Regions from separate parts of the Homo sapiens genome. Here all the other regions are linked to region 3. The links come from fine-mapping of genetic effects on gene expression. A gene starts in region 3. Each other region holds a variant in brackets. All regions are shown on one strand. Distances are from middle to middle. Region 1 overlaps P3H3 (prolyl 3-hydroxylase 3). Region 2 has its middle 8.3 kb from the start of CLEC4C. Region 3 holds the start of C12orf57 (chromosome 12 open reading frame 57).

Region 1 (8,174 bases), 110 kb after region 3:
CCCCACCATCCTCTTCATTTAAAGCATCAGCCTCCTCCCCTGCCATTTCTGTTCAGGGAGGCACAGTGTTCCCCATCTGTCCAGGGCTGCAGGTCCGGCAGCGGGGCCCCGTCCCAGCTCCCCAGGCCTGGTGAGCTCCAGGCTAGCCTGTGCACTGTCCTCTGAGTCCAGGCCCTTGTAGGTCCCCAAGATGGTGGGGGTGCAGGGACAGAGAGCTTGCTGTTCTGCTCCTGATGTCACACAGGGGCTTCCTGTGTGTCCTGGCATCAAGATGGCCTTCCACAAGTCAAGTGGCCACATCCTCAAGGAGCTGGCTCAGCCACTCACAGCTCCTCCCGAACCCGAGGTGCCCTTCCAGTCTTGTCTTGGACCCTCTGGTGCCTGCGGCTAGGGGGCTCTGGGGAAGGGTCTTTGCTGGGCATTTCTTCCTCTTCCTCTTCCTCCTCCTCCTGTGACTCCTGCAGCAGTTCTTTGGCTTCTATCCACTCCTGGGGTTGGGGAGGAGAGTGTGGCCCATTCCCTGCACCCACCTTCCCTGGGTCAGCTCAGCCCCTGACCCTCACCGACTGTGAGCCTTCTCGGGGGCTCCTTGCCCACCCTTCACGCACCAGGAGAACCACATCCCTTCCTACCCCGCTCCTTACCTGCTCCCTGTGCTCAGGTGCCCACGTGTGCCACAGTGCCAGGGCACAGCGCCGTCCCCGAGTCACGGCCCACACCCCATGGGGATTCTCGACACCGGAGCTGAAGGCCACAAGGCGCCCACAGCGAGGACGCACCCGAGCCTGGAGGGATGAGGGCAGGTTCAGCTCCAGGGATTGGCTCTCTCAGAGAACTTGGCCCTCACTCCCTAGAGCAGGATGGGGACAGGGGCACAGAGAGGATCAGCTCTCTCGCTACCACTTCCTACTCCTTAATTCAGGGACTAGCTTGGGGCAAATGAGAAATCAGCTTCAACTTGCAGAGCAAAAATGCAAGAGGAGTTGGGAACCAAAGGAAAAAGGGGTCTCCACGGATGGTCTCCTGTTGGTTCCTGACCCCTGGTACCCTGATTTTTCCCACTCAGCCCTTTGAATCCAGGGCTTGAAGCAATCTGGGGCTGTGCATGCAGTACCAGACTCTATGCAGAAGGGGATACAGATATTGGAACCATTTTCACACCCCACACCCAGATGAACAATCACTGCCCCTCTCCTCCTACCCAATCCTAGCCCCTGGTGTCCGGAAATTTCCCACCTAACATTCATTAATTGCTTATCATTACCAGGCGCTGCCTCATTCTTTTAGGTACATTACCTAAATTACTTCCTACAATGACCCTTTAAAATACGTACTATTATTATCACCCCAGTCTAGGAAACTAAACCTCAGAAAGGTTCAGAATCCGAGCCCCAGTCAAGGCGGCCCTGGTATCTGTGCGCCAGCCACTGTGCTCACCTCGCTGCAAAGAGGAAGGACTATTTCAAGTTCCCCAAATCCCTAGAATAGGGCCATGGAGTCCTGGAGGCACCTGCAAGCTGTGCTTCATTCACCCTTCTTTAGGAGGCGAGACAAATACTGATGGTAGGGTTGATTCGGCCACTTAGAGACCTTGCTACGGAGGAAGCAGCGGGAGGGCTGCGGAGGCGGGGAAGTGAAAGGGTTAAAAGCCCTGGCCATTTCCCTGCATTTGCCTCTGGAGCCTTCTGTTTTGAATCCTGACCCCACAGCTGGGCCCTTTGTCACACCGTCACACCCCCCACTCCACGCACCGTGACAGTGAGGGCGTTGGGCTCCGTGAAGAACAGGTCCCCACCCTGGAAGTCATCGTTGAGGTAGAGGAGTCCGCTGGGGAGGGAAAAAAGCAAGAGGCAGTGAGACCCCAACCCAGGCCCAGGCCGGCAGTGGGATGACCTTTGTCTGCCCACCTGCCTGACCACTAGAGGGGCTGCCCACCTGTAGTCCCGATAGGTGTAGGCTGGGGGCTCCCGCCAGCACTCTCCCGTGTCAGGGTCCAGGACGCAGTTGTCTGCGTGCACTGGGTGACTCAGGTCCATGCGCTGCTCTTGCTCTCCTAGGACACAAAGGGGTCTGGGGGTACCTCTGTGCCCCTGTGCCCATCTGCCACCCTGTGGGCTCAGGCCGTGCACGTCCACCCCGGGGCTCTTGGGGGCAGTGTCCTGGGGGCAGGGCCTGAGGTTGGAGAAGAGCAGTGGGGGGTCCCTGTCGTACCTTCTATGGCGCTGCGGCACACCAGGTGGGTGAAGGACAGATGCAGGGGCCGTTCCGGGGAGAAGTAGGCCTGGGTCAAGGTCCGCACCCGCTCGCTCACCTCCAGAAGCAGCTTAGCACCCTGACTGCCCACTGTCCCAGCCCGGGCCAGCTGCAGGCAGTGAAAGGCAGGGCAGAAAAGGAGGAAGGCAAGGGGAGGGTGGTCTCGGCCCTAGCCCCTGCCCAACTCTGCCGCTCTCCACCCATGGGTTTGGAGTCTGTCAGCATCCAGCTCTGTCCATCAGCCCAAACTGCTCCTTCTCTCTCCATGACAACAACCCCGGCCCCAGCTCTCAGAACATCCCTTTTCTCCACGCTGGGTCCTATCAGGTAGTCTCGGTCCCAAGAAAGCTCCTTCACAAAAGCCCAGGCCCTGGGGCCCGGCTTCCTGCACAGCCTCTCCTCCAGGTCTGGGCATCAGACGGGCCCGGGTGCCTCCTGTGCTCACCTGCGCAGCCTTAAGCACCGTGAGCCCCTCGAAGCGTTCATGGGGGGTGTGAGGGGAGCGGCGACCACGATAGCCAGACCTGGCTCCAGCCCCAGCTGCATCCTAAATAGGAAGGAGTTTACCGTGGAGTCACTCCCCCAGCCCCTCACTGTCTGCAGGGCTGCAAGACCCTCCCTCCGGCCCTCCCGCTCTCCAGAAGAAGCTAGATGCTCCCACAGTTCTGTTGTGGCTCGTCTTCCTGAGCTGCTGCTCTTTCCCAGAGAGTGCCCACCGCCACGGCTGTCCGATTGTCCCTCTCTGGTACGGGCTGGAATCCCGCTTACTAAGGGGACTGTGGAGAGAACTCGGGAGAGCTTCCTACAGCAGTAAGGGGGCCTCTGAGAGGGTAGGGACAGCTGGAAAAGTGGGGCAGAGCTGGGAACTAGGCAGGAAGGGCTTGATCATTAATCCCCGATGAGCCAAGAATAGAGGAGTCCCTCTGGAAACAGGACCCTAAGAGGAAGTTCCACAGTTAGGCCAGACTGGCGG[T/GT]AGGGAGACAGCATCAGCGGGCTATCCCTCTCTGACCTCTTCCCACCTGACATGCTCTCGGAGAAACTGTGGACTCCGTGGCTCCCCCACTCCTTGATACTGAGTCACAACTACCCAGCCACCTCCGCGACCACTCTCACTACCTGGGGGTCTCCTAATATCTGGATGTCTACACTGGAATTATTCGCTTTTCTGACACCCGTTTTTTGTCTACTTTTTGAATTTGTTTAAGCACCACTATCTAGTTACGCCTGCATACAAATCTCACTTCTGAGAGACACCTAGTCACCCAAGCCGTCTAACCTGGGGTTTTTTTTTTTTTTCATTTTTTGTTTTTGAGACGGGGTCTTGCTCTATCGCCCAGGCTGGAGTGCAGTGGCGCCATCATAGCTCACTGCAATCTCCACCTCCCAGGCTCCAGAGGTCCTCCCACCTCAGCCTCCCAAGTAGGTGGGAACATATAGGCGCATAGGCCCAGCTAATTTTTTGTATTTTTGTAGAGACGGGGTTTTACCACGTTGCTCAGGCTGGCCTGGAACTCCTGGGCTCAAGCCATTCGCCTGCCTCAGCCTCCCAAAGTGCTGGGATTACAGGTGTGAGCCACCTCGCCAGCCAACGGTGGCATTCGTCAATTACTCCCCTTTTCCGGGTCTTTCTCCCACTGCATTCTACAGACTGCCACTAGAGGGCTCTACCACTCCTACAGGTGACTCCAGACCCTGCACCTGATTCCAGGTACTACAGGAATGCAAAAGTCAACCGTCCTAAAATCCTGCAACAGCTGTCTACCATACACAGATAAAGCCCAAACTCCTTGGGAGGCCACAGAAGACACTCACTGTCCCTCGGCCTTCATGTGTGGGCTCTCTCCCTCTTTCCCTATACTGTCTCTTGGTAACATACACCCTGATGATTCTATGTTCTTTTTTAATTAATTAATTAATTAATTAATTATTTAAAAAAATTTATTTTTCGAGGCGGAGTTTTGATCTTGTTGCCCAGGCTGGACTGCAATGGTGCGATCTCGGCTCACTGCGACCTCCGCCTCCTGGGTCCAAGCGATTCTCCTGCCTCAGCCTCCCCAGTAGTTGGGATTACTGGCACCTGCCACAATGCCCACTAATTTTTTTGTATTTTTAGTAAAGACCGGGTTTCACCATGTTGGCCAGGCTGGTCTTGAACTCCTGACCTCAAGTGATCCACCTGCCTTGACCTCCTAAAGTGCTGGGATTACAGGCATGAGCCACCACACCCAGCCAGTGATGATTCTGTGTTCTAAGAGCTTTATCATGTGCTAACTCATTTAATCCTCACAACGACACTATGACAAAAACACTATTATTATCCTCATTTTATAGATGAGCAAATTAGGCTCAGAGATGTTAAAATAAATTGCCCAAGATCACACAGGTAATGACTATGGAGCTGGCCCTGCTCTCACCCCTGTGCTTGACTGCAGTTCCCAGAATGCACCATGCTCTTCTCCCTCTTAGACTGATTCCACCCCCAATCGCCTGACTAACTCATCCTTAAGACTGAGCTCAAATACCACCTCTCCAGCAAGCCTTCTATAACTGCATTTCAGTGCTTCTATTTGACATACTTTTTTTTTTTTTTTTTGAGATGGAGTTTCGCTCTTGTTGCCCACGCTGGAGTGCAATGGCACGAGATCAGCTCACCACAACCTCCGCCTCCCGGGTTCAGGCGCTTCTCCTGCCTCAGCCTCCCGAGTACCTGGGATTACAGGCATGTGCCACCACGCCTGGCTAACTTTTTTGTATTTTTATTAGAGACAGGGTTTCTCCATGTTGGTCAGGCTGGTCTCGAACTCCCAGCCTCAGGTGATCCACCCACCTCGGCCTCCCAAATTGCTGGGATTACAGGCATGAGCCACCATACCCAGCCCAAAAACATACTTCTTTTACCAAACTTACCACCTGCTTATATTATGTATTTCCTTGTCTGTTTCCACCTCTACACTTGAGCTCCCAAAGGGCAGAGTCTATAATCATCTTCCTCTCCCTAGAACCTAGCAGTTTCTAGTGTATAGCAGCTACTCAGTGAGTATATTACTGAATGAGCACTAACCTAAGATAAGGGTTGAAGCTTCATAAAATGGTAGCCTCAACCTGGTGAGTATGAGTCATTCAACCTAAACTAGGAGGGAAAGAAAGGCCTGCGTGTCTGCTGAGCCATCAGCCAAGCCAGTAACTAAACTCTTGGCTAACCAAGCAATCCTTACCTGCACACTCATCCATTTTTATGCCTTCATGTTTTTTGTTTTGTTCTTCCTATCAATTTCTAGCAAAATTCATTTGTAAAGAACATCCACCTATGTCAGCTAAATTAAGACGAGACGGAACTTATCCACAGCTGAGAGGCAGTGGTAAGCACAGTCCCGGTTGGATAATCAGGACAGGCAGAATGAAGGGGGCAGGCCAAGAGCAAGGGAACAGGTGATTGTATCCAAGAGTCTTGAACGAGCTGATGAGCTTGCAGGTCTTCCTACCTTAGCCAGCTGCAGCAGCACCCCACACTCGGCTGGGGTGAGCAGCCCATCCAACACCGCCCGCTCCGACCCATTCAGCTGCCTGGAATCCTGGGTCAAGGTCACACCCTCCAGGAGAAGGACATCTGCCAGGGAAAAGACAGAGCAGAGGGGGCTGAGCATCCCCTAAGGGCAGGCAGAGCAGTAGCTGGCAGCCCCCAGACCCTCCAGGCTCCTGCCTTCTCCCTCCCAGGAACTCACCCTTCCAGTAGGTCAAGGGCTTTGGCTTCACGGGCTCATGGTCCCAAGGCCTCTTCTCTTGATCCTCTCTCAGGGGTGAGAGATGCGCTCAGTGGGTGCCCAGGACAGTCCAGACCCAGCCTCCCAGCTCGGGCCAAGCCCCTCCCACCATGGGGCATATCCTACCTGAGCTTTTCTCTAAGTGCCTCAGGGATGAGAGCTGCAGGGGTCCAGGGGTCCTGCGACAGTCCAGAAAAGCATCATCACCCACCAAGGTCAGCCCCTGGAATCCCTGACATTAGAGCTGAAATATCTCATTAAGTTTCTTCTGTTTCCAGAGAGGAAGACGGAGGTAGGAAAAGCCCGGGACTCAATGTCAGGAGCCCTGGGCAGTGGATCAAACTGTAACAACAAGTACAACTATAACTCATATAGCACTTACTATCTGCTAGGGGCTATTCTAAGAGCTTTATTCATGGAAATGGAATTTATCCTTTAAAGTTCACAACAGTCTCATGAAACAGAATATTAAAGTGCTCATTTTGTAATTGAGAGCCCTGAGACACAGAGAAGTAAAGTAACATGCTCAAGATCACACAGCTACAAATGACAGGGTTAGTTGTTTTTTGTTGTTGTTTTTTGTTTTTTGTTTTTTTGAGACGGAGTCTCACACTGTCGCCCAGGCTGGAGTGCTATGGCGCGATCTCAGCTCACTGCAACCTCCGCCTCCTGGGTTCAAGCGATTCTCCTGCCTCAGCATCCCAGGTAGCTGGGATTATAGGCGCCCGCCACCACGCCCAGCTAATTTTTTGTATTTTTAGTAGAGACAGGGTTTCACTATGTTGGCCAGGCTGGTCTTGAACTCCTGATCTGGTGATCCACCTGCCTCGGCCTCCCAAAGCAGCGTTAGGTTTTAAACTAGCTGCAGGCCGGGTTCCGGTGGCTCACGCCTGTAATCCCAGCATCTTTGGGGGTCCGAGGCGGGTGGATCACCTGAAGTCAGGAGTTCAAGACCAGCCTGGCCAACATGGTGAAACCCCATCTCTACTAAAAATACAAAAATTAGCCAGGCAAGATGGCGGGCACCTGTAATCCCAGCTACTCAGGAGGCTGAGGCAGAAGAATCGCTTGAACCTGGGAGGTGGAGGTTGCAGTGAGCCAAGATCGCACCATTGCCCTCCAGCCTGGGTGACAGAGTGAGACTCTGTCTCCAAAAATAAAAATAAAAATAAAAAAAACTAGCTTCAGAGTTCACACATTTAGCCAGTCGTTCTCAAGCAGGACACTTCTGCCCCCAGGGGTCATTAGGCAAAGTGTGGAAACATTGATTGCCATGACTCAGGGGCTGTCAATGTGCTATTGATCTCTACTGGGTAGAGACCAGGGAAGCTGCTGAACACCCTCCAAGGCATAGGACAGGCCCTGCCCTCTGCCCCAACAAAGAATTATCCAAAATGTCAGATCCAAAATATCAGTAGCGCCAGGAAGACTGAGAACGCCTGCTTGATGCCCTAGTCCTAGCCATAGATAACCTCCGCCCCGCAGTTTCCTCTCATAACTACAAGAAGAGAAATAAAAGCAGCAGTAACAGAGCTTTCTATATTTTGTTATCAAATGATGTGGTTTCAACAGCCCTGTGAAACAGATGTGATTATTCCAACTTACAGGTAAGGAAATTGAGGCAGAGGCAAGTTGAAGTTCAGAGATGTTTGGGGCAGAGGAGGACTGACATTTAGGCCTGCGTGACCCCAAAGCCGCCCTAACTACAGGCACACTGTCTCCGTCCCTGTAAAACTGGGATGGCAGACTCTTCTCCAAGCCTCATGGTGGAAAAATGGAAAACTCTGTTGCAAACCAAAGTGCCATCCCTCCTGGGAGTGCGGAGGGGTGAGATGGGCAGAAGTGGAGTGACTCACAGGATCCTTGAAGCTGGTCCCCAGGTGCTCCATGGCATAGTAGAGCTGCCTCTTCTCCCCCAGGGATCGGAGGATGAAGCGCTGGATGTCCTGAGGGTGAGATGATGAGCAGTGAGGGGTAGCTGGAGGAAGGCAGGGAAGCGCCGGCTCTAGGGCACTGCCTGGGTGCTCCATGCTCCTTGAACCTGGCACCATGCCCCCCGGTTCCTCTGTTCAACGTTCCCCCTCAGCAGCTTCAGAGCATCTGGACTTAAACTGGAAAGGGTGTAGGGGGTGGGAGTGTGTGTGAGTGTGTGGGTGTGTG
Region 2 (8,174 bases), 810 kb before region 3:
GGAGTGGGAGGCAGGAGAATCACTTGAACCTGGGAAGTGGAGGTTGCAGTGAGCCGAGATCACACCATTGCACTCCAGCCTGGGCAATAAGAGCGAAACTCCGTCTCAAAAAATAAATAAATAAAAATAAATATTCTCTAACGCTTAAACTAATCCTATGAGATAGAAATTATTCAAGTCCTCATTTTATAAATGAGGAAGCTGAAGTTTACAAGACCAGTGCTCTAACCCCTGAGCTATGGAACCAACTGCGAAGCTGAAGTTTAGAGCAGGGCAGTAACTTGTAGATCACAGCTTAGTTAAGTGGCAGAGCCAGGAGAGGAAGAAAGCCTGTCTGATTACAAATCTCAAAAGTAAGAAAGATGTCATCCAGGGAAATGAGAAGGATTGTCCTGGAGGATTTGAGAATCATGTGTGGTATTTCTGTTCTGATCTACCTAGCTGTTTGAGAATAATAACCATCTATTAACTATACTTAATAGATGGTTTTACATTTCCAAAGTGAAAAAGAACAACAGTACAGGTAAGCGATGAAAGAAGGCGCATCTGGGGGCCGGGCGCGGTGGCTCACGCCTGTAATCCCAGCACTTTGGGAGGTCGAGGTGGGCAGAACACCTGAGGTCAGGAGTTCGAGACCAGCCTGGCCAACATGGTGAAACCCTGTCTCTACGAAAAATACAAAAATTAGCCGGGCATTGTGTGTTGTGGCGTGCACTTGTAATCCCAGCTACTAGGAAGGCTGGGCCAGGAGAATTGCTTGAACACGGGAGGCGGAGGTTGCAGTGAGCCAAGATTGCGCCACTGCACTCCAGTCTGGGTGACAGAGCGAGACTGCCTAAAAAAAAGAAAGAAAGAAAGAAGGCGCATCTGAATCTTTCCAGCCACAGGGGAAATCCTGCCAAAACGCAGATAAATAAACCCCCTGAAGTCTCTGTACAACACATTTATTCAAACCTGCTTTGAATAATTTGACAAATCTGCTTAACAATGACCTGATTAAAGGGTAGACACAAAAAGGAGGTGGCACAGTGATTTTCTAGTACATTTTTCTTCTTAGGAAGCTCTTTACAGCTATTCTATTGGAGAGGAACAACCATAGGAATTATTGAAATGGCAAAACCCTATATCCTCTGGAAAGCATTCTACCCGCCTTTCCCCTTCCCCCTCCCTGCCAGTGGCTCTCAGAGTTCAGCATGCATAATAATCCCCAGGAAGGCTTGTTGAAATGAGGTTCCTGGGTCCCACCCCAGAATTTCTGATTCAGTAATTCACACGCGGGGCTCAAAAATTTGCATGTCTGTGTAGGGGCGGAGAGGGTGTGATCCCTTTCCTCCTGATAGTAAGAGTCAGGAGGACACTCCAATAACAAAAGGCAGATTAACAAGAGAAAAGCATAACAAATTTATCTAATCCAAGTTTTACTTGACAAAGGAATCTTCAGAGATGAAGATCGAAAAACTCAGGAAAAAAGTGTCTGTTTTTATGCTTAGCTTCTCTGAAGAATGGACAGCTGTGTAGAAATGTGACTGGACAAAAAGGGAACGACCTAATGGTAATAGACTGAGTGGGGAAACCCAGCAAAGCCTGATTTTTTTTTTTTTTTTTTTTTTTTGAGACGCAGTCTCACTCTTGTCGCCCAGGCTGGAGTGCAGTGGCGCGATCTTGGCTCACTGCAACCTCTGCCTCCTGGTTCAAGCCATTCTCCTGCCTCAGCCTCCCGAGTAGCTGGGATTACAGGCACGCACCACCATGCCCGGCTAATTTTTGTATTTTTAGTAGAGATGGGGTTTCACCATGTTGGCCGAGCTGGTCTGGAACTCCTGACCTCGTGATCCGCCCACCTCGATTACAGGCTTGAGCCACCGAGCCCGGCTGACAATGTATTTTCACATGTACTTGAGAAAATGTCCTGGTGTTCCAGATGCTAGCAGTTTCTAAATATGAAATACACATTTCTGGAGATCCATTTTGCAGAGAGGCATTCCCAGTTTGTTTGTTTGTTTGTTTGTTTGTTTTGTGACAGAGTTTTGCTCTTGTGGCCCAGGCTGGAGTGCAGTGGTGCGGTCTCCGGTCACTGCAACCTCCACCTCCCGGGTTCAAGCGATTCTCCGGTCTCATCCTCCCAAGTAGCTGGGATTACAGGCGCCCGCCACCATGCCGGCTAATTTTTGTATTTTTAGTAGGGATGGGGTTTCACCATGTTGGTCAGGCTGGTCTCGAACTCCTGACCTCGGGCAATCCGCCCAACTTGGCCTTCCAAAATGCTAAGATTACAGGTGCGAGCCACCGCGCCTGGCCTCCCAGTATTTTTATATCAAAGAATTTTAAAATATTGTTTTCAATAAAGATGTAAACTTTCCCATAGAGAGTAACCTAATGTCTGAAACTAACCAAAAAAAAAAAAAAAAAAAAAAAAAGGAAGGAAGGAAGGAAGAGAGGGAGATAGGCTTTCAAAAAATATGCCTGTGCTGGAATTGCGAATTGTTCCTTGATAAAAGTCCTCTGTTGAAAGGCATTCCTTTAGACCCTGAGACTCACCTGCTGAGGCAGCACTGAATCTTCCATTTCTGTCTCAACCACAAATGGAATGCTCAGGTCAAGACTCCACGCCTACACATGTGCCTGGGGCAGTCTCATTTTTAATTCCATGCCTCTCTTGATGCCTGTAAAAAGGTATATGGTAATATAAACATTATATCATGTTTACAGCTAAGAAGACTAAAAGGAAAAACAAGATGTTCAGGATGGTTCTTTCTAAGTAATTGAATTGCAGGTGGTTTTTCATTTTTTCTTTTCACTTTTTGTATTATTTACATTCTCCATGGTGAAAATGTAATGTTTCTAAAGTTAAGAGAAAATATTGTTTCATTTTGTTTATTTGTTTTAGAGATGGAGTCTTGCTCTATTGCCCAGGCTGGAGTGCAGTGACACCATCATACCTCACTACAGCCTCGAACTCCTGGGCTCAAGCAATTCTCTCGTCCCAGATTCTCCAGTAGCTGGGACTGCAGGTGCATGCCATCTCACCTGTTTTTTGTTTTGTTTTGTTTTGTTTTTTGTTTTTTTAGGTGGAGGCTTGCTCTTGTTGCCCCGGCTGGAGTGCAACGGTGGTAAAATTTCGGCTCACCATAACCTCTGCCTCCTGGGTTCAAGTGATTCTCCTGCCTCAGTCTCCCGAGTAGCTGGGATTACAGACATGCACCACCACACCTGGCTAATTTTTGTATTTTTAGTAGAGATGGGGTTTCGCCATGTTGGTGAGGTTGGCCTTGAACTCCTGACCTCAGGTGATCCTCCTGCCTCGGCCTCCCAAAGTGAGCCACCACGCCTGATCTCGCCTTGCTATTTTTAAAAGATTTTTTGTAAAGATGGGGCTCTCACTTTGGTGCCCAGGCTGATCTTGAACTCCTGGCCTCAAGCGACCCTCCCATCTCAGCCTCCCAAAGTGCTGAGTTTATAGGGATGAGCCACCACACTCAGACTTTCTTTTAATATGAAAGCTCATACTCCGGCTCGAACTCCTGACCTCAGGTGATCCGCCTGCCTTGGCCTCCCAAAGTGCTGGGATTACAGGTGTGAGCCACCACGCCCGGCCAATCTTCTTTTTTTTCCAGAGACAATTTACTTTTTTTTTTTTGATATGGAGTCTCGCTGTTGCCTAGGCTGGAGTGCAGTGGCACGATCTCAGCTCACTGCAACCTCTGCCTCCCGGATTCAAACGATTCTCCTGCCTTAGCCTCCCTGAGCAACTGAGTCTACAGGCACACACCACCATACCTGGCTAATTTTTGTATTTTTAGTAGAGACAAGGTTTCACCATGTTGGCTAGGCTGGTCTCAAACTCCTGACCGCAGGTGATCTGCCTGCCTCTGCCTCCCAAAGT[G/T]CTGAAATTACAGGTGTGAACCACTGCGACCAGCCGACAATTTACTTTTGCTTTTGCTTTTGCTTTTGCTTTGGCAGACGGAGTTAAAGTAGATTTTACCTTGATTCAAACAGGCATTGAGTTTGTTCAAAACTAATTTCAAAATTTTAGGCCAGGCTCAGTGGCTAACGCCTGTAATGGAAGTTACAGGCCATTTGGAAGGCCGAGGCGGGCGGATACCTAGAGTCCAGGAGTTTGAGACCAATCTAGGCAACATAGCAAAATTCTGTCTCTACTAAAAATACAAAAATTGGCCGGGCGCGGTGGCTCACACCTGTAATCCCAGCACTTTGGGAGGCCGACGCGGGTGGATCATGAGGCCAGGAGTTCGAGAGGAGCCTGGCCAAGATGGTGAAATCCCGTCTCTACTAAAAATACAAAAATTAGCTGGGTGTGGTGGCGCACGCCTGTAGTCCCAGCTACTTGGGAGGCTGAGGCAGGAGAATCGTTTGAACCCAGGAGGCGGAGGTTGTGGTGAGCTGAGATCGTGCCATTGCACTCCAGCCTGGGCGACGAGAGTGAAACTCCGTCTAAAAAATAAATAAATAAATAAAAATAAAAATACAAAAATTAGCTGGGCAGTGGCTCATGCCTATAATCCCAGCTACTTGGGAGGCTGAGGCACGAGAATTGCTTGAACCTGGAAGGTGGAGGCTGCAATCAGTTAAAATGCACCACTGCATTCTAGCCTGGGTGACAGAGCCAGACAAGACTTCATCTCAAAAATAAAAAAATAAAAAAAATAGCCGGGCATGGTGGCTCACGCCTGTAATCCCAGCATTTTGGGAGGCCAAGGCCAGCAGATCACCTGAGGTCAGGAGTTTGAGACCAGCCTGGCCAACGTGGTAAAACCTCGTCTCTACTAAAAATACTAAAATTGGCCAGGAGTGGTGGCGCGCACCTATAGTCCCAGCTTCTCAGAAGGCTGATGGAGGAGAATCGCTTGAACCTGGGAGGCAGAGGTTTCAGTGAGCTGAGATCAGGTCACCGCACTCTAACCTGGGCAACAGAGGAAGACTCTGTCCTAAATAAATAAATAAATAAATAAATAAATATATAACAAACTGGATTTCATTCTTTATGAATTAATAGTCTCTTCTTGGGCCAGGCACAGTGCCACATGTCTGTAATCTCAGCACTTTGGGAGGACAAGGTGGGCGGATCGCTTGAACCTAGGAGTTCGAAACCACCTTGGGCAACCTGGTGAAACCCCATCTCTACCAAAAATGCAAAACTTAACTGGGCATGGTGGTGTGTGCCTGTAGTGCCAGCTACTTGGGAGGTTGAGGTGGGAGGATGGCTTGAGCTCAGGTGGTGGAGGTTACAGTGAGCCAAGATTGGGCCACTGCACTGCAGACTGGGCAATAGAATGAGACCCTTACTCCAAAAAAAAAAAAAAAAAAAAGGTCCATTCTCAGCTCTTCATTATTCATAGAGGAGTCCTTGTCTAAAGTTTTATTATTTAGTTACCAGCCTCCCAGTTGTACAGACACTGCACAGACACTCAGTCCTTCAGTCACTGCTGAAGAGCCAGCAGATGCCATGTCCAGCTTTCTCTCTCTCTAGGGTCTTGGCTCCTGAAATTCCTTGTTCTGTGGAAGCCTCTCTGATGCTTCCTAATAGTTTTTTTGTATTGATCCAGCTTTCCTGGTTGGTCTCAGCAAACAATTGGTCTGCCACAAGCTATTTAAGCCACAATCCAAACTGGAAGTTTCTGCTTCTCATTTTTGAGGTTGGCTTTCATTTCCTCATTGATTTAAAAATTCTAAAAAATACATGCTGTCCATGAGCCCTGGTGCTTCTTTTTAGGGAAAGCCAAAATTTAGTAGTAGCATTTTAAAAATCAATCAGATTTTTAAAATGAAATAGATGCTAAAAGTGATAAAGAACTACCAGGCACGGTGGCTCATGCCTGCAATCTTCCGGGTTCACTCCATTCTCCTGCCTCAGCCTCCTGAGTAGCTGGGACCACAGGCGCCTGCCACCACGCCCGGCTGATTTTTTGTATTTTTAGTAGAGACGGGGTTTCACTGTGTTAGCCACGATGGTCTCCATCTCCTGACCTCATGATCCGCCCGCCTCGGCCTCCCAGAGTGCTGGGATTACAGGCTGAGCCACCGCGCCCGGCCCCCTTGGCTTTCTTGACACTTGGTGTTATGGTCTGAATGTTTGTGTCTCCCCAAAATTCATATGTTGAAATCCTAACCTCCAAGGTGATAGTATTGGAGGTGGGGACTTTGGAAGGTGATTAGGTCATGAGGGTTCAACCAAATGAGTGAAATTAGTGCCCTTATAATAAAAGACCCCAGAAAGCTGGCTCATCCCTTCCACCATGTGAGGACACAGCAAGAAGGAGCCATATATAAACCAGAAAGTGGGCCTTTGCCAGACACCAAATCTGCCAGTGCCTTGATCTTGAACTTTCCAGCCTCCAAAACTGTGAGAAATAAATTGCAGCTGCTATTGGCCACCCAGTTTACAGTATTTTCTTATAATAGCCTGAATGGGCCGGGCCTGGTGGCTCATGCCTGTAATCCCAGCACTGTGGGAGGCCAAAGTGGGTGGATCACCTGAGGTCAGGAGTTCGAGACCAAGCCTGGCCAACATGGTGAAACCTCATCTCTACTAGAGATACAAAAATTAGCTGGGCGTGGAGGCATGCGCCTGTAGTCCCAGATACTGGGGAGGCTGAGGCGGAAGAATCACTTGAAGCCGGTAGGTGGAGGTTGCAGTGAGCCAAGATCGTGCCACTGCACTGCAGCCTGGGTGACAGAACGAGACTCCATCTCAGAAAAAAAATAATAATAGCCTGAATGGACTAAGACACTCACTTTTCCTATTTCTCTGGATATTCTTCTTTGTCTCTTTTGCCACTTCATCCTCTGCAAACAATACATTCAAAGTTGGACTTTTTTTTTATTATTATTTTTTTGAGACGGAGTCTTCCTCTGTCGACTCTGTCTCAAAAAATAAATAAATAAAAAAATATAATCTGATCCTTTCACCACATTGCTTTAGTGCCTTTAATGGCTCTTTCTGCTATTGGATAAGTTAAACTCTCACTTCACCCTGCGTGGTCTGACCACTAACTTCCTCTTACACAAGCCCAATATCTCCACCTGGCTAGCTATAAAATAGAATCTTAAACCCTAAGGACTGCTTTTCTCATTGGTTTCTTTCTTTCTTTTGAGACAGAGTCTCCCTCTGTCACCCAGGAGTGCAGTGGCGCAATTGAGAGGTGACAGCGTGCTGGCAGTCCTCACAGCCCTCGCTCGCTCTCAGCGCCTCCTCTGCCTAGGCTCCCACTTTGGCGGCACTTCAGGAGCCCTTCAGCCCACCGCTGCACTGTGGGAGCCCCTTTCTGGGTTGGCCAAGGCCGGAGCCGGCTCCCTCAGCTTGCAGGGAGGTGTGGAGGGAGAGGCGGGGCTGCGCGCGGCGCTTGCGGGCCAGCTGGAGTTCCGGGTGGGCGTGGGCTTGGCGGGCCCCGCACTCGGAGCAGCCGGCCGGCCCTGCCGGCCCCGGGCAATGAGGGGCTTAGCACCCGGGCCAGCGGCTGCAGAGGGTGTACTGGGTCCCCCAGCAGTGCCAGCCCACCGGCGCTGCACTTGATTTCTCACCGGGCCTTAGCTGCCTTCTCGCGGGGCAGGGCTCGGGACCTGCAGCCCGCCAAGCCTGAGCCTCCCACCTCTCCCCCGCCATGGGCTCCTGTGCGGCCGAGCCTCCCCGATGAGCGCCACCCCCTGCTCCAAGGCGCCCAGTCCCATCGACCACCCAAGGGCTGAGGAGTGCGGGCGCAAGGGCGCGGACTGGCAGGCAGCTCCACCTGCAGCCCCAGTGCAGTGATCCACTGGGTGAAGCCAGCTGGGCTCCTGAGTCTGGTGGGGCCGTGGAGAACCTTTATGTCTAGCTCAGGGATTGTAAATACACCAATAGGCACTCTGTATCTAGCTCAAGGTTTGTAAACACACCAATCAACACCCTGTGTCTAGCTCAGTTTGTGAATGCACCAATCGACACTCTGTATCTAGCTGCTCTGGTGGGGCCTTGGAGAACCTTTATGTGGATACTCTGTATCTAACTGATCTGACGGGGACGTGGAGAACCTTTATGTCTAGCTCAAGGTTTGTAAACGCACCAATCAGCGCACTGTCAAAACAGACCACTCGGCTCTACCAATCAGCAGGACGTGGGTGGGGCCAGATAAGAGAATAAAAGCAGGCTGCCCGAGCTAGCAGTTGCAACCGGTTGCGAG
Region 3 (8,174 bases):
CAGGCTGGTGTGCAGTGGTGCAATCATCGCTGACTGCAGCCTTGACCTCCCAGGCTCAAGCAAGCCTCTCACCTTAGCCTCTCCATAGCTGGAACCACAGGACGTGTGCCACCACACCCAGCTAATTTCTTATTTTTTGTAGAGACAGGGTCTCACTATATTGGCCAGGCTGGTCTCAAACTCCTGGGCTCAAGCAATCCTCTCGCCTCAGCCTCCCACAGTGCTGGGATCACAGGTGTGAACCACTACACCCGGCCAAGGCTGTCTATTTTCTGCGTAATACTTCTGAGAATCTGCAATGATCCAATTTATTGGGTTATTTGTTCGGTCTGTAACCTCCCACTGGAATGTAAGCTCCGTGAGAGCAGAGACCATGTCTGTCTTGTTCACTCCAGTATTACCAGCATCTTAAACAGCACCTGGTGCATAATAGATGCTCAACACGTACCTGTTGAATGAATGATGCAGGGGAAAGGGAAGTGAAAGGAAACAAAGAAGATGGGACCAAAGTCTGATGTTGGGAAGTGCGGAGAAGTTGGCTGGACGTGGGAGGGCCTTCGCGGGTGGCCTCTGACTGCTATGTTTGAGGTGTTGTGAGCTACCCAGGGGGACAGGTCCTAAGCAGGAGGCAGAAGCAGGAGCCCAGAGGCTGGAAGTAGAAATGCAATGGAGAGAACAGATACACACTTGTCCAGGGGAAAATGTTAAAGAGGGGGCAGAGGAGCATGAGTGAGCCGGGGGTCCTCACACCTTGCGGGAAGGGGAAGTTCATAGGGACCGGAAACAGGCGCAGGGCAGCGGCAGATCGCACTCACGTTCACACACGTCGGAGTGAGCATCAACAAAGCCCTCCCTCCCTCCAAAACTAACAGGAGACTGGGACCCCGATGGTGCCCGGGACTTACCCACGGGACAGCATCTCTCTGTAGGGAGGGGGAAGCCACGGCAGAGGGCCGCAGGGGGCGGGGCTGAGCCAGCGGCACAGCTGTGCACAGTGGCCCAAGCCAGGTGAGGAAGAACCGCTCAGTAATCAGCCACTTCCTCCTCGATCCTGCCTGCCAGGCCAATGGCACTGCAGGGACAAACCCTGGACTAATAGTCTCCAGGAAAAGGACAGGTGGGGCGGGGCTGGCCCGAGACCGCCCACAGCGGCCAGCTTCCCTGCAGCCCCAAAGCGGGAGTACAGCAGGCCCGCCTGCTGGTCCAGGGCCGCCTTCCCCCGGGAGAGGAGGAGCCACCTGGAGCTCCACCTGGAGCTCAAGCTGACAGAGCGGCGGGGTATTGGGTAGGGGAACAGACCAGGAAGTAACCCTGGCTGAGGAAGAGCAACCAATGGGGGAAACCTCTCCGTAGGCGGAAACCAAAGGGCCTAAGGAAAATCCCTAACAGCCCAGTTCCTCAGAGAAGGAGGTACCCCCTGTGCAGGCCCACCCACCCAGGGCGCTGAGGGACCCACTCCAGCCTCTCAACCTGCCCCGGGGGAAGGGGAGGAGCCTCAGGTAGGGTTAGGCCCTGGGGCAGGGTTAGGCCCAGCCAGGACCATAGGGAGGAGCTGTTCAGGGGGATGGGGCCTGGAAAGGCAGAGGGAATCAGGGAAGGAGAGATGGGGGTTGTCAGGTCCGCAAGAGACTGACACCAAGGCTAAGTCACAGGCGCATTTATTATTGTCTGGAACATCAAGGCCTTTCCTCCCCTGGCAGTGGCACAAGGGAGGGCCAACTCTCAGGAGGCGGCCACGCTGCCACCAGCAGCAGGCCCATGGGGTGGCAGGGTCATGGGCGGCAGAAACAGCGCCTTCAGCTTGCCTGACAGGCTGGCGATCTCAGGATCCTGGGCTTCGTAGGACTTGACCAAGCGAGCAAACTTAAGGACACCTGCAAGAGGGAGTGGAAGGTCAACCCTTCTCCTAAGGACCAGCGTGCCTAAGACACCTGGAGGGGGTGGTAGTCTAAGCATGAACTGCTCCCCCACTGGCTGGGCAGCTGTTTGCCAAACAGGACGCATGCAGGCCTCTGTCCCGTGTGGTTTGGATGATGACATTTGGTCTACACTGGGCACAACTAGATGGGATGCAGTGAATGAAAATGTCCCAAGGCAGTGTGCTTCTTGCTCTCAGGTGAACCATTTTAGCAGTTTAGTCACTGGAACCCCAAGAATGAACACGAGACCCCAGGTCTGTAGCTGGAACTCAGGAAGGCTATGAGGCAGCAGAGCTGAATCAGTCAACACCTTTGGGGAACACCAGGATCTCACCAAAAATTTAACCACCAACCCCCCCCAAACAAAAATTAGCTGAAACACCCTGGAGAGACTGCAGCCACTGCTGTCATGCAGACATGTCACTAAAAGGTGGCACAACAGCATTTAAGTCCAGCTCTGCTACTCGAGAGTCTGCACCATTAGAGTTTGCTTCCTCATCACAAAATGGAATAATAATGTGATTAACAGTACAGGTTGACCATCCTTAATTAGAAAATCCAAAATCTGAAATTATGAGTGCCAGTGTGAGGCCGAAAATGGAAAATTCCACACCTGACTTCATAGTGGGGGGTGGGGGAGACTGTAGTCAAAACGCAGTCAAAACTTTGTCTCATGCACAAAATTATTCAGACTATTATATAAAATTACCCTCAGGCTATGTGCATAAGGTGCGTGTATATGAAACAAAACAATTTCGTGTTCAGATTTAGGTCCCATCCCCCAAGATATCCATGTATATGTAAATATTCCGAAATCTGAAAAAACCCGAAACACTTCCGGTCCCAACCATTTCGGGTAAGGGATACAGAACCTCTACTGTACAAAACGCAACTCGGACGCACAAGCTCAGGGTAGACCCTGGGCTCTGAGTGCCAAGAATGTTAGTCAGATTGTGGCTGCCGCCGTGTGGCGAGAAAGGGGACAACCGCTCATGGGCCCACAGATCCGGCGCCCTCTCCCGACCCAACTCCCGCCTTCCCGCGTCTGACCCGCCTTCCCGCGTCTGACCCACCTTCCCCGTCGCAGCTGAAGCCATAGGCTTTGATAACCTCCTGCTGGATCTGCGTGGCCACGGGCAGCACGAATTGCAGCATCTTACCCATGTCGTTGCAGGCGTTATCCCGAGCCTCGTCCATGCGCACTGCATTCTCCGGGGCGGAGAACGCCTGGATCACCTCCGCGAGGACCACTGCGCGCCAGAAGCATCCCAGGGAGGCGTCCCGGGTAGGCGTCGGAGAACAGACAGCGGGCCCAGCGGAGAGCGCAAGGAATTAGTGGATTGAGGCTGTAGGTAACCCAATAAGATCCCAAGTCTTGGGGGCAAGCGCCCCACTTAGAAGGACGGTACCCGGCGTCCCCTACCCCATTTTCCCGGCGGACGTAGCCAGGTTTGTCGCCCCACATCCTCCGCCCGCATCCTCCCCAGACCAGCAGCCCATGCCTTGACTACCCCAGGCCAGCAGCCTATGCCTTGACTAGGACGATTCTCACCCTTTGCTTGCTCAGCGCTCAAGGCCGCCGGTTGGGTCGAGGCGGACGCCATAGGGCGTCTGAAGCTCTAGGTTCAGCGGAGGTAAATGGAAAACTCACGAATAAAGAGCCACGTCCTACAACCGTTCCCAACGCCCCTGGGAGCGGAAAGGAAACAGCATCCGGCGCAGCCGGAAGCGCCCAGGCGTGGCCCAAACCTTCATACCCCAAGCTTACAACTGCATCAAGACCACCAAAACTACCCATAATTTTTGCACAGTGAAAACAATCTATCATTGGCAACAAACATCATAAGAGGGGCTTTCCGGTAAAAAGCCAGAAAGCCTACTAGACAAATTCTAAAAGAGCTGTAACACTGCTGCGTATGTGTTTGGAGAGAAGATGGGATATAAAGGAACTCCACAATTGATGAGGGTGAGCTTAGGTGACTTTTTTCTTGTTCCTATTACTGTATAAACAACGACGCATGTGGTAACTTTCAGTAGGAAAAATAATATTCTAAGGAACTTACTTAAGTCATTCATTTCTAGAGTTCGCGAACATTTGTTCTCAGCCCATGCAAATGAGTTCGGTGCTGATTGGTTGAGAAAGCAGCCAGTCACAGCCCCTTCGTTGTTGTTAAGCCCGGAGACCTGGATTCGGCAGTAAAGGCCCAGAGCAAAAGCCGTTGTCGCAGTTTCCTAAAGGCCTTGTCTATTGATGAGCGATGGAGCCTAATGCCCGGCCCGATTTCCCTTCCCTTCCAGGCTTTTATCACCCACTCCCTTCTCAAACTGTAGGTGGTTAAGGATGCCAGGTACTAATCGCCTGGACCTATTAAAACTAGCCCACCCCACCCCCGCTTCATAACCGGCTTTGTTTTTTGTTTTTGAGACGGAGTCTTGCTCTGTCGCCAAGCTGGAGTGCAGCTGGGGGGGATCTTGGCTCACCATAACCTCCACCTCCCGGGTTCAAGCGATTCTCCTGCCTCAACCTCCCAAGTCGCTGGGACGACAGGCGCGCGCCACCATGCCCAGCTAATGTTTTGTTTTTAGTAGAGACAGGGTTTTGCCATGTTGGCCAAGCTGGTCTGGAACTCCTGACCTCGTGATCCGCCCGCCTCGGCCTCCCAAAGTCCTGGGATTACCAGCGTGAGCCGTCGCGCCTGGCCTCATAACCGTTTCTTAAAGTATTCCACGGAAAGGTTTCAGGACTCTGAAGCCCTTGTTCCGGAGGACTCTGGTGGCTCCTAGCAGTGAGACCCGTCTGAATAGATTCCTAGAACTGACCACGTCAGAGGTGGGCCTGTCCCAGGCCTCTAGTGTTTGGTTGGTTGGGGTGTCTTTTGTTTGTTTGTTTTGAGATAGGGCCTTGCTCTGTCACCCAGGCTAGAGTGCAGTGGTGCGATCATGACTCACTGTAGCCTCGACCCCCAAGTGATCCTCCCACCTCAGCCTCCTGAGTAGCTGGGACCACAAGTGCACCACAACCCCCAGCTGATTTTGTCTTAAGATGGGGTTTCTCTATGTTGCCCAAGCTGGTTTCCAACTCCTGGGCTCAAGCAATCCACCCGCGTCTCACAGGCATAAGCCACAGAGCCCAGACCGAGGCCTCCACTGGCGCGCAGCGGTCCTGCCCAGCCTTGGGGCAGGAGGGGGCACCAGCACCCATGGTACCGCCTCCAGCTGAGTCAAGGCTCTGGGCTCTTCAGGGATCCCCTCTCCAATTCTTCCCAGCCCCCACACCCCGTTCCTTAAGAAGGTCTGGTCTCTTCCCGCTTCCCTGCCAGGCCCTGGCTGCAGTTCTCTCTAAGCACCGCTGCACTGAGACCCAGCCTCACCCCCATATCCCGCAAAGAATAGTCACAGCCATGTTCCTGGGGAGTTGTGAGGATGTTTTTGTTTGGTTGGTTTTGGTTGGGATGTTTTTTTAAGAGCGTCATATAGATATTTATATATATAAATTATTAGTGTGGGGAAGGGGCAAGGGGCATACATTGCAGAGGGGGCGCGCACACAGGGATCGGGGAGGGGCAGGGGTGGCACACGATGCTACGCAAAACAGCCACATCTAACAGATGAAATAATCACACCAACGGGGCAGGGGAGGGGCGGCGGCCACAGGGGTTGGGCATGGGGGAGGAGAAAAGCAGGGGGGACAAGGAAGAGAGACCTGGTCCAAGATTCTGTGCGCTTTCTGTCCCCATCCTCGCCACCTCCCCACCTCTGCACACCACATCGGGCCTTGGCCTTCTGTCTGTCCCTCCCTCCCCCACTCTCTGTCCAGCTGCGGAGGCCCTGCAACTGAGCAGCACCCTCTTGGCTCTGGGTGGCAGGCCAAGGGCACGGTGGGGGGAGGGTGGGGGTGCTCCAAGGTCCAATGTAGGAGCCATGGTGCTCTCTTGATCGCAGGTTCTACAGTGGCTTGTCGCTTTCCTTCTTCAGGTGACTAGGGAAGGGGCAGTGCATAGCAGAGAGGTAAGAGACTTGAGACCAACTCTGACCTTGCCCCCTCTTACCGAAGGGGTTGGGAGAGGAGGGGTTCCCTCCCCCAGGAGCACGGTGCCCAGCCGTACCATGCCCACAGCTCCTCCCAGGCTCGCTGAGCCCATGTCCCCTGGGCTGGGGCACCCTAGGGTACCTGTAGTAGTCCTCCTGGGCAGGCAGCGGCACACTGTGCAGCGGGTGATGGGCATGCAGCCACTGCTGCTGTTCCAGCGCCAAGCGCTGCAGCTCAGCTGACTGTGCGTGCATGGCCTGCAGCTGATGAGCTGCTGACATCGGGGCAGAAAGGGAGGCCGGCAGGTCCCGGTAAGGGGCAGCTGTGAGCAGGAAGGGCAAGGGGCATATGACCAACGGATAACAAGTACCTGCTCTGGACCAGGGGATAGCCAGCTCCTTTACATACAAAGGTAATGAACTAAAAAGTGAGGTAACACACCCAGTTCTGTAAGTTGCCAGTGGTAGGGTGGAATTGGGATTCGAACCTCTTAGGCTGACACTAAAACTCGTGCTTCTCTTGGGCAGAGCTCCAGCTCTCCTATTCCCATGCCCAGCTCCTCTAGGCACCTCCTCATCCCTCCCCAAGCCCAACTAGGCCCATCCCCCCACCCAAATACCTCCTTTCTGCCCTTTTCTCATTGGAGCTGCCTACCCCAACTTCCATCCTTACCAAAGAGCTGGTGACGAAGAACTTCGTTCTCGTGCAGAGGGTGAGGAAGCAGGGGGTTAGGGAGAGTTCCAGCTGGGTAGGGGATCCGGGTAAGGTGAGACCCTGAGGCCAGGGGGTCAATGAGAGGGTGCACCGAGGCAGAGGCTGGAGGGCAGAGAAGAGGAAGGTGTCACCAGAAGGCAGGTTTGGGGCAAACCATGCATTTGGGTGAAGGGATCCAAGCCTGGGAACTGAGTCAGACAAACACAAGGAGGTCCAAAGTGGAACAAAGGCAGAGTGGAAGAACTAGAGGCCTGGCAGGGGTGGACAGGCTGAGCCCTACTGGAGGAGGGACATATGGATGACACAGGACAGGAGATTACAGTCATCAGAAGGGTCTGAGGGGAAGGACAGAGAGAGGTAGACTGCGTGAAGAAGGTGGAAGATGATAGAAGTTTAGAAAATAAGACAAGAAGAGGCCGGGCACAGTGGCTCAAGCCTATAATCTCAGCACTTTGGGAGGCTGAGGCAGGCAGCTCACCTGAGGTGAGGAGTTCAAGACCAGCCTGGCCAAGATGGTGAAACCCTGTTTCTACAAAAAATACAAAAAAATTAGCCAGGCAGGGTGGCACACGCCTATAGTCCCAGCTCCTCGGGAGGCTGAGGCAGGAGAATCGCTTGAACCTGGGAGGTGGAAGCTGCAGTGAGCCGAGATCGCGCCACTGCACTCCAGTCTGGGCAAAAGAAAAAAAGGAAGCCGGGTGCGGTGGCTCACGCTTGTAATTCCAGCACTTTGGGAGGCCAAGGCGGGTGGATCACAAGGTCAAGAGATCAAGACTATCCTGGCCAACATGGTGAAACCCCGTGTCTACTAAAAATACAAAAATTAGCTGTACTTGGTGGCACACGCCTGCAGTCCCAGCTACTCGGGCAGGCAGTGCCTGCTGAGGCAGAAGAATCACTTGAACCCCAGAGGCGGAGGTTGCAGTAAGCCGAGATCGCGCCACTGCACTCCAGCTTGGTGACAGGGCGAGACTCCGTCTCAAAAACCAAAAAATGGTGAAAGGATAGTAAGTAAAGCTCATTATCGCCTATGACACCCAAACCCAAAGCTACAGGGCCCTTTCTAGAAAGTTACAGATCTAGAGATGGGGAAAAACATGAAAGACCTCGCAGAGGGAGAAGAGGAGAAAATGGCAAAAAATGAGTTGAATCCAGAGAAATCAGAAGATAGGTTTGTGGGTTGGGCACGGTGGCTCACGCCTGTAATCTCAGGACTTTGGGAGGCCGAGGTGGGTGGATCGCTTTGAGCTCAGGAATTTGAGACCAGCCATGGCCAACATGGCGAAACCCCGTCTCTACCAAAAATACAAAAAGTAGCCAGGTATGGTGACACACGCCTGTAATCCCAGCTACTCCAGAGGCTGAGGTAGGAGGATCACTTGAGACCGGGAAGTCGAGGCTGCAGTGAGCTGTGATTGCGCCACTACACTCCAGCCTGGGTGGCAGAGCCAGACCATGTCTCAAAAAAATAAATAAGAAGACAGGTTTGTGAAGGGCTTGGGAGAATGGGG

The links.
Region 1: its variant is fine-mapped to the expression of C12orf57 in whole blood (INTERVAL, PIP above 0.99).
Region 2: its variant is fine-mapped to the expression of C12orf57 in whole blood (INTERVAL, PIP above 0.99).

Annotation. Positions count from the first base shown.
Region 1 is chr12:6,831,611-6,839,784 of GRCh38, reverse strand. P3H3 (prolyl 3-hydroxylase 3) reads right to left here. Exons shown (of 15, transcript NM_014262.5): 6 at 7,871-7,960; 7 at 6,141-6,193; 8 at 5,976-6,043; 9 at 5,736-5,860; 10 at 2,699-2,800; 11 at 2,212-2,362; 12 at 1,936-2,053; 13 at 1,752-1,827; 14 at 645-785; 15 at 1-488. The coding sequence ends at 324. Among named protein-coding and RNA genes, the nearest start is that of GNB3, 5.2 kb to the left of the region's middle. The variant T/GT (reference allele first, on the strand shown) is at 3,227.
Region 2 is chr12:7,751,606-7,759,779 of GRCh38, reverse strand. No RefSeq gene overlaps it. Among named protein-coding and RNA genes, the nearest start is that of CLEC4C, 8.3 kb to the right of the region's middle. The variant G/T (reference allele first, on the strand shown) is at 3,884.
Region 3 is chr12:6,939,471-6,947,644 of GRCh38, reverse strand. C12orf57 (chromosome 12 open reading frame 57) reads right to left here and starts at 3,623. Exons shown (of 3, transcript NM_138425.4): 1 at 3,472-3,623; 2 at 2,993-3,169; 3 at 1,643-1,874. The coding sequence starts at 3,523. The coding sequence ends at 1,723. It overlaps ATN1 (atrophin 1), which reads right to left. Exons shown (of 10, transcript NM_001940.4): 8 at 6,622-6,765; 9 at 6,091-6,271; 10 at 5,324-5,898. The coding sequence ends at 5,865. It overlaps RNU7-1 (RNA, U7 small nuclear 1), which reads right to left and starts at 3,829; the gene lies at 3,767-3,829. It also overlaps a transcript of PTPN6 not described here. RefSeq lists silencers at 991-1,040, 3,074-3,333 and enhancers at 1,187-1,795, 1,681-1,800, 1,796-2,406, 2,967-3,116, 2,656-3,235 and 3 more.